Homo sapiens: one gene and its partners. The protein of the gene in region 3 purifies or fractionates together with the protein of the main gene of each other region. This does not show direct contact. Each region holds a gene or a part of one and is shown on either strand. Other genes may lie near its edges.

What was found.
Region 1: the proteins of SLC16A4 (region 3) and AKR1A1 purify together in Homo sapiens (affinity purification with mass spectrometry; one large-scale study listed by BioGRID and IntAct). This does not show direct contact.
Region 2: the proteins of SLC16A4 (region 3) and NCAM1 purify together in Homo sapiens (affinity purification with mass spectrometry; one large-scale study listed by BioGRID and IntAct). This does not show direct contact.

What each region holds. Positions count from the first base shown.
Region 1 is NC_000001.11:45,557,007-45,560,943, reverse strand, and holds part of AKR1A1 (aldo-keto reductase family 1 member A1), read right to left. Parts: intron 1-3,937. UniProt on the Homo sapiens protein: Catalyzes the NADPH-dependent reduction of a wide variety of carbonyl-containing compounds to their corresponding alcohols.
Region 2 is NC_000011.10:113,230,101-113,234,037, reverse strand, and holds part of NCAM1 (neural cell adhesion molecule 1 isoform 2 precursor), read right to left. Parts: intron 2,843-3,937; coding exon of another isoform or gene 2,765-2,842; intron 2,394-2,764; coding exon 2,243-2,393; intron 1,869-2,242; coding exon 1,684-1,868; intron 1,321-1,683; coding exon 1,224-1,320; intron 892-1,223; coding exon 721-891; intron 1-720.
Region 3 is NC_000001.11:110,384,527-110,388,463, forward strand, and holds part of SLC16A4 (monocarboxylate transporter 5), read right to left. Parts: intron 1-3,937. UniProt on the Homo sapiens protein: Proton-linked monocarboxylate transporter.

The sequences.
Region 1 (3,937 bases), about 65 Mb from region 3:
CATCCTGGCTAACTCAGTGAAAGACCATCTCTACTAAAAATACAAAAAATTAGCCAGGCGTGGTGGCGGGTGCCTGTAGTCCCAGCTACCTGGGAGGCTGAGGCAGGAGAATCACTTGAACCCAGGAGGCGGAGGTTGCAGTGAGCTTAGATTGCACCACTGCACTCCAGCCTGGGCAACAGAGCGAGACTTTGTCTCAAAAAAAAAAAAAAAAAAAAGAACTGCAGAGATTCTCCAAGTACCTTTCACAGAGGTCTGGTCAGCCATGCTGGTAGGCCCGAGTGGGCTCCTGCAAGGGAGGTAAAGGGAGTCCTAAAAAAGGAACTCTTTTTTAGACTCAGGGTCTGGTTCTGTCTCCTAGGTTGGAGAACAGTGGTGTGATCATGGCTCACTGCAGCCTTGAACTCCTAAGCTCAAGTGATATTCCTGCCTCACCCTTCCAAGTAGCTGGGACTACAGGCCTGTGCCAGCACACCTGGATGTTTTTAAACTTTTTTAGAGATGGTTCTGGCTAGGTTGCCCAGGCTGGTCTTGAACTTCTGACCTCAAGCTATCCAGCCACTTCAGCACCCTGAGTTGCTGGGATTACAGGTATGAGCCACCATATCCAGATCTTTAATTTTTTAGTTGAGAAAATAGGCTCAAAGAAGTGAAGTTAGACCGGGCGCTGTGCCTCACACCTGTAATACAAGCACATAGGAAGGCCAAGGCAGGCAAATCACTTGAGGTCAAAAGTTAGAGACCAGCCTGGCCAACAGAGTGAAACCCCATTTCTACCAAAAAATACAAAAATTAGCTAGGCGTGGTGGCATGCACCTGTAGTCCCAGCTATGGAGGCTGAGGCGGGAGAATCGTTTGAACCCGGGAGGCGGAGGTTGCAGTGAGCCAAGATTGCGCCACTGCACTCCAGCCTGGGCGACACAGCCAGACTCCATCTCAAAAAAAAAAAAAAGTGAAGTTATTTGCTCCAAATCAACAGCTAAGAAGTGGCAAAACTGGCTGGGCACAGTGGCTCACGCCTGTAATCCCAGCACTTTGGGAGGTTGAGGTGGGCGGATCACAAGGTCAAGAGATCGAGACCAGCCCTGGTCAACATAGCGAAACCCCGTCTCTACTAAAAATAGAAAAATTAGCCGGGCATGGTGGCGGGTGCCTATAATCCCAGCTACTTACTTGGGAGGCTGAGGCAGGAGAATTGCTTGAACCCGGGAGGCGGAGGTTGCAGTGAGCTGAGATCATGCCACTGCACTCCAGCCTGGGTGACAGAGGGAGACTCCGTCTCAAAAAAAAAAAAAAAAAAAAAAAAAAAGAAAAGAAAAGAGAAAAGAAGTGGCAAAACCAAGGATCTAAGGAGGAGCTAATGGAAAAAAGGCAAATAAACACAGACCTATAAAAAGATACTCATGGTAGACACAAGTATGATGTACTACAGAAAAGGGCAAGGACAAAGAAATATTGACACTGGTTTTTAAGAATTCCCAAGAGTTAAGGGGAAGAACTCTTTCCAGGAAAGGAAACTATACACATGACTTCAGTGCAGCAGAAAAGTAACTAATTACAGATACAAGTAAATTTCCAACCAAACAAAGCAGGTAACTGGAGCCTCCCCCTCTGGAAAGCTATGCAAATAAGAGGTCACCAAATGGCCCAAGAATACTCGTTTTGTCAGTAAATTGAATGTTCCAACTCTTGTGCTAAACCCAAGAGAAAAATGTATTTAAATATTTAAACTGCCTTCCTTCAGTTTATGGTCTTGTAATGGGAACAGGTGATATCAGTACACTGTGATAAGAGCTTTGATCAAATTCTGCACAAGAGCTGCACAAGGGTGGCAAGAAAAGGGTAACCTTGCTAGGATGGCTTCTTGGAGGAATCTCTTCCTGAGTCAAGTCCTAAAGAATAACTGAACAGGAGCTATTCAAGTGAAAGAAAAGGAGAGAGAATGTTCACACCAAGAGCCAATGAGGTAGATACAACCTTTTCCCTTGATCTCATCAGTACCATGAATATCACTCTTGGGATTGATTTAATTGCCAACAATATCTTTATAAATATAATCTTAGTTTCCAGGTTCTAAAAGGATGTAGGATAGAGCAAGTAATAAGACAAGCTGTGGCCAGGAGTGGTGGCTCACACCTGTAATCCTAGCACTCTGGAAGGCCGATGCGACGGATCACCTGAGGTCAGGGTATTACCAGCCTGGCCAACATGGCGAAACCCCATCTTTACTGAAAATACAAAAATTAGGCCGGGTTTGGTGGCTTACACCTGTAATCCCAGCACTTTGGGAGGCCGAGGAGGGCAGATCACGAGGTCAGGAGTTCGAGACCAGCCTGACCAACATGGTGAAACCCCGTCTCTCCTAAAAATACAAAAATTAGCCGGGCATGGTGGCACATGCCTGTGGTCCCAGATACTCAGAAGGCTGAGACAGGAGGAATCGCTTGAACTCGGGAGGTGGAGGTTGCAGTGAGCCGAGATTGAGCCACTGCACTCCGGCTTGGGTGACAGAGCAAGACTCCATCTCAAAAAAAAAAAAAAAAAAAAATTAGCTGGGCGTGGTGGCACATGCCTGTAATCTCAGCTACTTGGGAGGCCAAGACATGAGAATCACCTGAACCCGGGAGGCGGAGGTTGCAGTGAGCTGATATAGTGCCACTGCACTCCAGTCTGGGTAACAGAGCGAGACCCTGTCTCAAAAAATAATAATAATAATAAGACAAGTTGAGGCTGGGTACAGTGGCTAACGTCTGTAACCCCAGCACTTTGGGAGGCCGAGGCAGGCAGATCACTTAAGACTTGAGGTCAGGAGTTCGAGACCAGCCTGGCCAACAAGGCGAAACCCCCTCTCTACTAAAAATACAAAAATTAGCTGGACATGGTGGTGCACACCTTAATCCCAGCTACTCGGGTGGCTGAGGCAGGAGAATCGCTTGAACCCAGGAGGCAGAGGTTGCAGTGAGCTGAGATCATGCCACTGCACTCCAGCCTGGGATACAGAGTGAGGCTCCATCTCAAAAAAAAAAAAAAAGACAAGTTGTGAGTAAAGCCAGTACACCAACACTGTCTTTCCTAATACTTCTGACCCAGGAAGAATTTTATAGTCTAGTTTAAGTTGGTTTTGGAAACCACTCTTTTCTGCTAAAACAAAATCAAAACTTCAATCTGAGTGTCAAACCACAAGCTACCAGGGCAATGCTCTTTATAATCAAATTTCCAAGGGATCAAGCAAGCAAGTCTGGACTTGACAAGAGGAACCTGGTGGCCTGCTGCCACCAGGGTCTAAGGCAGGTTTCCTGGGCTTAATGCCCAATGACCTGTTGGCCTCTCGCAGATTACCCAGCACGCATGAGAAGGCTCTGAAATTACACCTGGGGTGAGAGCTTGAACAACACCCTGGCTTAAGGGGAAAAGGAAGAAGAAACCTGAATCTTGCTTCTCCCTTTCTTTTGCTGGTGAAACTGAACACCGAAAAGGCTGAGGCTTGGGGAACAGGGATGAAAGATGGAGGAGATCTGCAAAGAACAAGAGCTCCCTAGGGAAGAATGAAGGTGCCACATAGATGTTTTTCTCTAGGACAGAAAATCATCCTCGGCCAGCTCTTGACTTCCTCATCTTCTGCTTGATACAACTGCTTTCCAGCCTAGCTGTGCGTGAACAGATTCCAGACTCTGAGCTTGTCAGGAACTGCCTATCTGGACCTTTGGCAGCATTCAGAAACCCTCATGTTATCTTTTTTATTTTTATTTTTTTGAGATAGAGTTTCATTCTTGTCACCCAGGCTGGGGTGCAATGGCGCGATCTTGGCTCACTGCAACCTCCACCTCCTGGGTTCAAGCGATTCTCCTGCCTCAGCCTCCCCAGTAGCTGGGATTACAGGCATGTGCCACCACGCCCAGCTAATTTTTGTATTATTAGTAGAGACAGGGTTTCACCA
Region 2 (3,937 bases), on a different chromosome or scaffold from region 3:
AATGGCTGTGATACTGATATCCCAGCCTACTTCCAATTCCACTCGAATTACCACATACGAGACCAGGATTAAAAATTTGTACAGAAACAAAACATACTTCACTGAGTTATTCCAATTAAACCCAAAAAGGGGAGTCCAACATAAGCACACATTATCCTCAGATGATCTGGGCTCAGAATCTTCACACTGCAGTAATCCAAGGGTCAGTCTTTTAATCTTTAGCTTGGAAAGCTAGCACAGGACTGATTTAAGGGCAGACTTGTCCTGCTGGCTGTGCTTATTTGGTTACTATCACAATTACAAGACAGCCAGTCCCTGAGTACAGATATCCAAGCAGGACTGGCCGGGTGTCGGCAGAGAACCTGCAGCACAGGTAACTCAAACGTGCAGAGTAGGATGGATTAGACTCATCTGGCCATGCTCAGAACCTATGGGCTGGACTCATCTGGCTGCGCTCAGAACCTACACAAGGTTCCTGCCTGGAATGTGGTACAGATGCCTTCATCCATACTGGAAGGGTCATGAGAACCAGGCTCTGAAGCACAGAGCATGGGTTGGGGTGGCAATAGGGGCAACAACTCTACAGGCAGATATGACTTTGACCTAATTCTGGAGGTGCAGTTCCTGATTCTGTAGGAACATGCCCAGGATGGCAGGTGGGGACATCTGAGTACTGAGGCACTCATGATCCCAATGGAAACACCAACTCGCCCAACTCACCTTCCTTGGCATCATACCACTTGGAATGCCATACTTCTTCACCAACTGCTCTCCACTCAGCTTTGTATTTGAGGATGGGCACCCCACCTGTGGCCTCTGGTTCATCAAACTGCACCTGGGCTGTGCTGGAGTATGGCTCCACCTGGTCGATGGATGGTGAAGAGGGGGTGTCTGTGGGGAAGACACATATGGAGACTCAGGTGAGCCCAGTTTGGCCCAAGACCATTAACTCTCAGTCACAAGGCACATCTCTGTCATTTCTGCTCACTCTTGGGAATCCTGTCACTGTATCCTGTCCTCCTGGCCCATCTCACCAGATGCTTCTCCCCCAACATGCCCCATGCGCTGATCCAATGGCTCCCAGCTTCCCAACTCTCTGGCTTTGCTGACCCTGGCCCTTTCTTCTTCCCAATATCCTGGAATCACTCAAGTACACAAATTGGGCTGGCAGGGTTAGGTGGGGGGTTGTGGCAGCTGCTCTCAGGTGAGTAAGGGACACTCACCTGCTTGAACAAGGATGAATTCCAAGGACTCCTGCCCAATGCGGTTCACTGCAGTACAGTTGTAGTTCCCAAAATCATTCTCAGAGTCTGGGGTCACCTTTAGAAGGAAGAAGCTATTGGGTTACAAGTGTCCTATGGGATGGTCACAGACTCAGATCTTTATTTACTGAATTAAGTTAGTAAAAAACAGAACTAGTAAAGTATAAATCATTAGCTCCAGCCCAGCCTTAAACAAGAGAAAAGAATAGCAGAGGGGCTCATGGGAGAGGCACATTCAGGGAGGGGACTGGTAGAGTGGGCGAAGGGGAGCTGAAAAGAGGCTCAGTGTCTTCTCTAGCCCATGCCTTCCCTGCTCAGGATGTGCCAGAGAAGCAGGAGAGAGGACTTGAGCTGCATTTTGGAGCCCACCTAGAGTCAAACTGTGCTTTCTCTGCTCTGTCCCACCCCCATCCTGACTCACCTCCAGATAGCTGGCAGAGGGGGTGTTGTAGATCTTGATATTGCTGTAATTGGAGCTTGGCAGCAGCTGGCCATCCCGAAACCATGAGATCGTGGCACTGGGATAGGCAAATACCTCGCAGGTGATGTTCACCTGGTTCCCCTCCCAAGTGTACACAGCCACAGGGCCCTGTAGCTTTGGGGCATCTGCAATAAATAACAATGACTGTCAGGATGACTGCCATGATTATGAAGCCCCCATATCCTGTCTCCTGGCACTGGGAAGGCAGGTGTGCTCCAAAGCAGAGCCAGCGCCTGGTATAGTAGAGGTCAGGGCCATTCTAGAATTCCTGTGCACAGCATGGGAAGAAGACTCAAGGGCACAGCAGGCTTGTAAGAAGCCTGGAGATGGTGTGTAGGGGGTGGCTTGGGAACAGAGCTCTGAAATAGCCCAGGGTCAGCTGCAGGGAACGTAAGCAGAACACACAGGGTGCACATAGGTCCTTGCTGATGTTTTCCTCTCTCATCCTGACCCTGCCTTGCCCCTCCCTCCCCCAGGTCCTTCCCCATTTATTCCTTACATTGCACTTCAAGGTACATGGACTGGGAGTCCTGGCCGATGGTGTTGCTGGCGGTGCAGATGTACTCTCCGGCATCAGTGTACTGGATGCTCTTCAGGGTCAGCGACGACACACGGGCATGGCTACGCACCACCATGTGCCCATCCAGAGTCTGCCGGGGGTGGGGGGGAAGGGAGCATGTCAGAGCCCAAGGCAGGGTGAAGGGCAACAGTGCTATGGCAGGATGGGGGCTGGGAGACTAGGCCATCACTTGTCTGTGACCCGTCTCACTTCCTCTCTCCTCTCTGTGTCAATGGCTTTCTTACTTTAGGTACCATCTAATGGGGGAGGCACTGGGAAGCAGCATGAGAACCTGGGAGTATCCGAAACAGAAAATGAGACTCAGTTATGTCAGGCAGCCTGATCTAAGTACCAAGATTGGTTTGGGGCTAGGTCCCCCAAGATGACTTTGTTTGGGATGTCTAAAATGGAAGCAAAGCCTCCGGCCAGCAGATATTGCAGCAGCAGCAGCAGCAGCCCTACCTCATGAGATCCTGGGAAACCTGCACTGCCAGCCTGTCCTTTCTGTCTGCCCACTTGCCAGTTCCATGGTGCATGTACCTGTGGCAGGACATTCCAAGTGCCCAACATAAGAAATTATTAAAGAAATCCTTATTTCTGCAGATGCCTCTTTCCTGGATGTTTAAAAGTGAAATAATCACATGTAAAAACAAGCCAAACAACTCAAAGATCAGGAGCCACTGCACTGGAAGTGAGAGTAACTGGGTTCTCTCTCCAGGGACAATGGCACAGAGAGTCCTAGGCAGGTCTGGGATCCTTGACACCTTGGCCACCACCATTTTATAGTCCTTGATACAGCAATGGGCTTCCTAAATCTCTGGAATTATAATGATTGGTCAAAAAGAGAATAAGCACATAGTCCTTAGGCAATGGGTACTGGAGTATTTCCAAGGGGATTTCCCCTTGACATTCTAAGTAAAATGGTTGCTGGCCCAGGAAGAGTCTAGGCATGTGGCTTAACTTCAGATCCTCAAGAAAGTTAGTGATCTGGAGAAAGGGTCTTGTTCTGGGTAGGCTGGGCCCTCTTGTCTCCAGTATATGATGTTCTGTAGGGATGGACAGGAGGTTATATTCTGCACCTGGCATCTGCCATCCCATGCGTTGGGTCTTTAAAGAATGACAGAACAATTGGCTTCAGGTTCTTTGGATATGCTGGTTTGGGGCCCTGAAGCCCAGAATTGCAATGTCATACAGCAGCCAGATTAGGAAGCTCACAAGCAAGGCATCACTAGCCTTGTTCAGCAGTCTCAGCAGATTTACCAATGAAAAGTCCCTTGGACCATCACTGACAGATCTAGCCTATTCCGGTCATCTGAGCCCCAATGCATTTCATGTCTGGAAGCTAAAAAACAACTCTAGCAAGAAGACAGAAGAGTCAAGCAAAGTCATGGCTGCCCATTTCTGCAAGTGCCATTCCTCCCTGGGATGAGTTCTCTGATCCTCTGCTTTGACCTATAAATCTGGGATGCTGGTTGGTTGAAAGATGCATCCCAGGAGATGCCACACATTAATGAGAGATGACAACAAACAGGTGTGGAACACTTCACTAGAAAGCCTTGTGACACCCAGTTTGTTGGAGATACTGGATTTTTGAGGGCTGACAGTGCTGATACATTCCAGGGCTATTTTCTTTTC
Region 3 (3,937 bases):
TGTTAAGTGCTATTCCTTCTTTCCGTTTTTAAGTAACAGTCATGCTTTATCCCACAGGGGTCTAGAGGGGAACCTAGCCAGGGTTTGCATTCACTCGTAAAGCCCAGGTGTACTCTCTGTCTCCAGGGGTTTCGTAGCGTTGGCTTTTCAAGGCCACTTCTGCTTTCAACCTGGCCATGCATTGCTTATGAACCACAAAACCAGCTGGGCATGGAGGCTCCTGCCTATAATCCTAGTACTTTGGGAGGCCGAGGTGGGTGGATCGCTTGAGCCCAGGAGTTCAAGACCAGCCTGGGCAACATGGCGAAACCCCGTCTCTACAAAAAGTACAAAAAATTAGCTGGGCGTAGTGGTATAACACCTGTAGTCCCAGCTACCTGGGAGGGTGAGGTGGGAGGAACACCTGAACCTGGGAGGTCGAGGGTACGGTGAGTTGTGATCACACTACTGCACTCCAGCCTGGGCGACAGTGAGACCTTGTCTCAAAATTAATAATAATAAAAGAACCACAAAGCCTTAGGTTCCCCTTCATTAATTCCACTTTCTCGGCCCGCCTGTTACAGTTCTGTACTCATCTCGCTTGATATCTGCTCCCTGGACAATCATTTACTCTCAAGGTTTTAATTACCACCTGCATACTTATGGTGGTGTAGCTGAACAGGGTTCTGCAATCAGTCTGCCTTAACTTGCATCCAGGCTGTTCTTCCTACTGGGGCGTGACCTTGGGCAAACAACTTCGCACGTCACATGGGTTAAGCTTCCGCTTTTATGATGGGGGAGGCGGCATTGGGGATGAAAATATTACCTAGCTCATAAGACTGTGAAGATTAATTGAGAAAATTCTGATAAAGTACTTAATATTTGGCACTTAACACTCAAACAATTAACTGTGGTTTCCATTCTGCTTTCCCAAGAGCTTCAGACTCCTAATTGTCTACCATATCTTTATAACTTCTGGTCAACTTGTCCAAACATAAACTCACATTTCCCTTATCCTATGCCTACTCTTTTCAGTTTTTTCTATTGGTACCATCCACCCATTCATTTGAGTGACAGATGTGCTTTCTCTTAGACACCTCCCTCCCTCAGCCCCTGCTTTTAAATAATGGTCAAGACCTGCCCCCTTCTTTTCACCCCATCACTACTGGCGATGCTCAGAAATTGCAAAAGTGGTAGTGGTGAGGAAGAAGTCTCTTAATATACTTTTTCCCATTCTGATTTGATAAAAGGAACAAAACTTATTTAGAATGAAGAGTGCTATAAACGCCAGGACTATATATTCAAAAGTTAAAAAGACATTTTATCAGGCCCCCATTGAGGCAATTTATAACCATAATTTTCCTCTAAGGCACTTCTGTCAGGCTAGAAATTAGGTTAGAAAATATACACAGATCTCAAATGACTTAGACTTTCTTCTCTCAGTTCATAATAATGTGATGATTGTGTCCTCTCATGAGCAAGGAATAATACAGTGCATCATTCTGTAAAGTAAACTTCCTTTTGTTCTATGGACGTGGGTTCTGTGCTGGTGTCTAGAGGATGTTGACCTCTATATTCTTAGCTACCTAAATTTAGCTAGCTACTGGTCCCCCAGTTCAGAGCTTTTCATCTCTGGTCTGTCCTTGGTGTCTGCGTGTAGCAGCAGTGAATGGTTAGGACTTGTCTCTAATAACTGAGTCCGTGTCCACTATGTATCAAGAAGACCAAGGGCAGAGCCTTTGCACCTACCATGCTTCCCGTCCCTTAACTTGAAGTCTTCCAACTTTGTTTCAGTTTTGACTCAAAGATATTAAAAATCTCTCCCAAGGTCTAGGTTTTTCCTTAGTTAATTTAGCAGACTACATAAATCTGCATTATTCTACATAATCCCATGTCTTAGACCAAGCTTGGTGGGTTTTAGTTCTGTTACCAGAGTCCACGTCATACATTGTAAATGGCTCACTCCAAAATAAAGCAAAAACCCTAGAACTTCTCCAGTCCCCTCATTTTCTTTTTGTTTTTAAGAGCAGTTAATTGGGTTGAACCTGGCAGGAACACCTTAAGCAGGACTTCCCCCACACCCCACCTCCAATAAGAGCTTCCTCACTAGATCATTTTAATTATTGTCTGGGAAAGGAGTTGGATCAGCCTCAGTGACTTATTTTCAATACAGGCACCAGGCTTTGTCAGAGTTAGTTTTATCTAATAACAACTTCTTATCCTGCGTCCTTTTCTAGTATCACCCTAGCTCCTCCTGACCTTCACAGGCAAACTTCTGTAAAAAATGGTCTATTAGGTATCTCCACTTTCTGTCATTCTGCTACTCCACTGAAAACTAAAGTTCACTAACTTTGGCCCCCACTGCTCCACTGTACTAGCTCTTATCAAGGTTATTAGATTTCTTTGTTGCTAAACCAATAGAGTCTTGTTATTTCTCTCCTATTTGACCTCTCAGTAGCATCTGCTCGTCACATTTCTCTGAAATGCAAATCTATCACATCCCTGCTTAATTTTTCTCATTAGCTTCTCATAGCCTCAAGAGCCATTCTCATCTCTTCAGTTTCATCAACTATCCCCTTCATCCTTATTTGTTTATTCATAAATGTGTGCAGCTATCAATTCATCCATCCATCTATCCATCCACCAACAGTATTTTACTGAGTGCCTACTATGTTCCAGGCTGTATACTGGCACTGGGCTTACGGTAATGAGCATATACTCATGAGCAATGCAGACATAGACCCTGCCCCCATGGAACATTCAGTCTAGTAAGACAGACTGAATACAGAAAACAGTCATACAAATATATAAAGTGTGGTAAGTTGGTTAGAATGAATCTCTCTCTCTTTTTTTAAGTAGGAAGCTCCCAAAGAACATTGTTATTTTTCACTTACTAGGAGCTCATCTGTTATAGAAAAGAACAGTTGTAAGTCATACAGAAACAAAAGCACAGTCATTCAAGTATCCACATTACAACTGTGGGGGATTAGCCCCTGAATTTATTGTTAACATTTTGAGGATCCAGTGCATTTTTTGTGCTTAGTAAGCAGTATCACACCCTAAAAGTGGGACAGTGTTTATTAATCTGGTTATTAGATGGTTTTTCCTATCAGCAACTAAATTGATCAAAAACCATTCTATCCTCAGAGGATAATGTAGAAAAAGTCAGGGTGGTTACTGGGGAGAAAGGCAGGAGAATTAGAGATCCTCACCAACAGTGCCTATTCTGCAAAGCCTATGATTTAGGGGGGTGGCCCAGCCCCAGGAAGGGCTCTCAGACTTAGGGCATCCTTTAGTTTCCCTATTAGTAACATTTCTAGGGGGAAAATGAGATTGTTTAGTACTGAAGCTAATGTTTAGCAAGTACTACTATTATGTGTTAAGAGTTTTGTATTACATAAATCCTGGCTGGGGACCTCTGCCCCTATCTTGTCTAGCACGAGGGAGGAGGCCTGATGTTTTCCCACCATCCTATTTGTAGAATTCTTAGATATCTGCATGTGAACTATAGGATTATTAGAAGGCACCAAGACCTGTGCTACCTTTCCCCGTGAGCTGCTTACTGTAGGGCTGAGTAGGGGGGAAGTGTCGGCAAGAAAAGGGTGTTTTTTTTTGAGTGCATCTCAAAGTTAATAGAACTCTGGAAACACTTAAGAATTGTGCAGCTGGTGCCACTCTCTGGAGAGCTGTGTGGGGCATAGCTGGGGTTCACCAACATTCTGGAATGGGCATGCTGATGATGCAGATCACCACTCTCACACCTCAACCCCTGGGAGGGTGAGGGAAAGAAGTTAATTTAAAAAATGGAATGCCTCGTCTAGTTGCTTATGGGTAAAGGAGAAGAATCAGGCTCCCCCTTCAAAATCCTTGTCCTCCCTTTCCAAACACATCGGAAATATAGATAGCATAAACTATAGTTAGTGGGGATGGATTGGGAAGTAGACAGCAGGCCAAACAG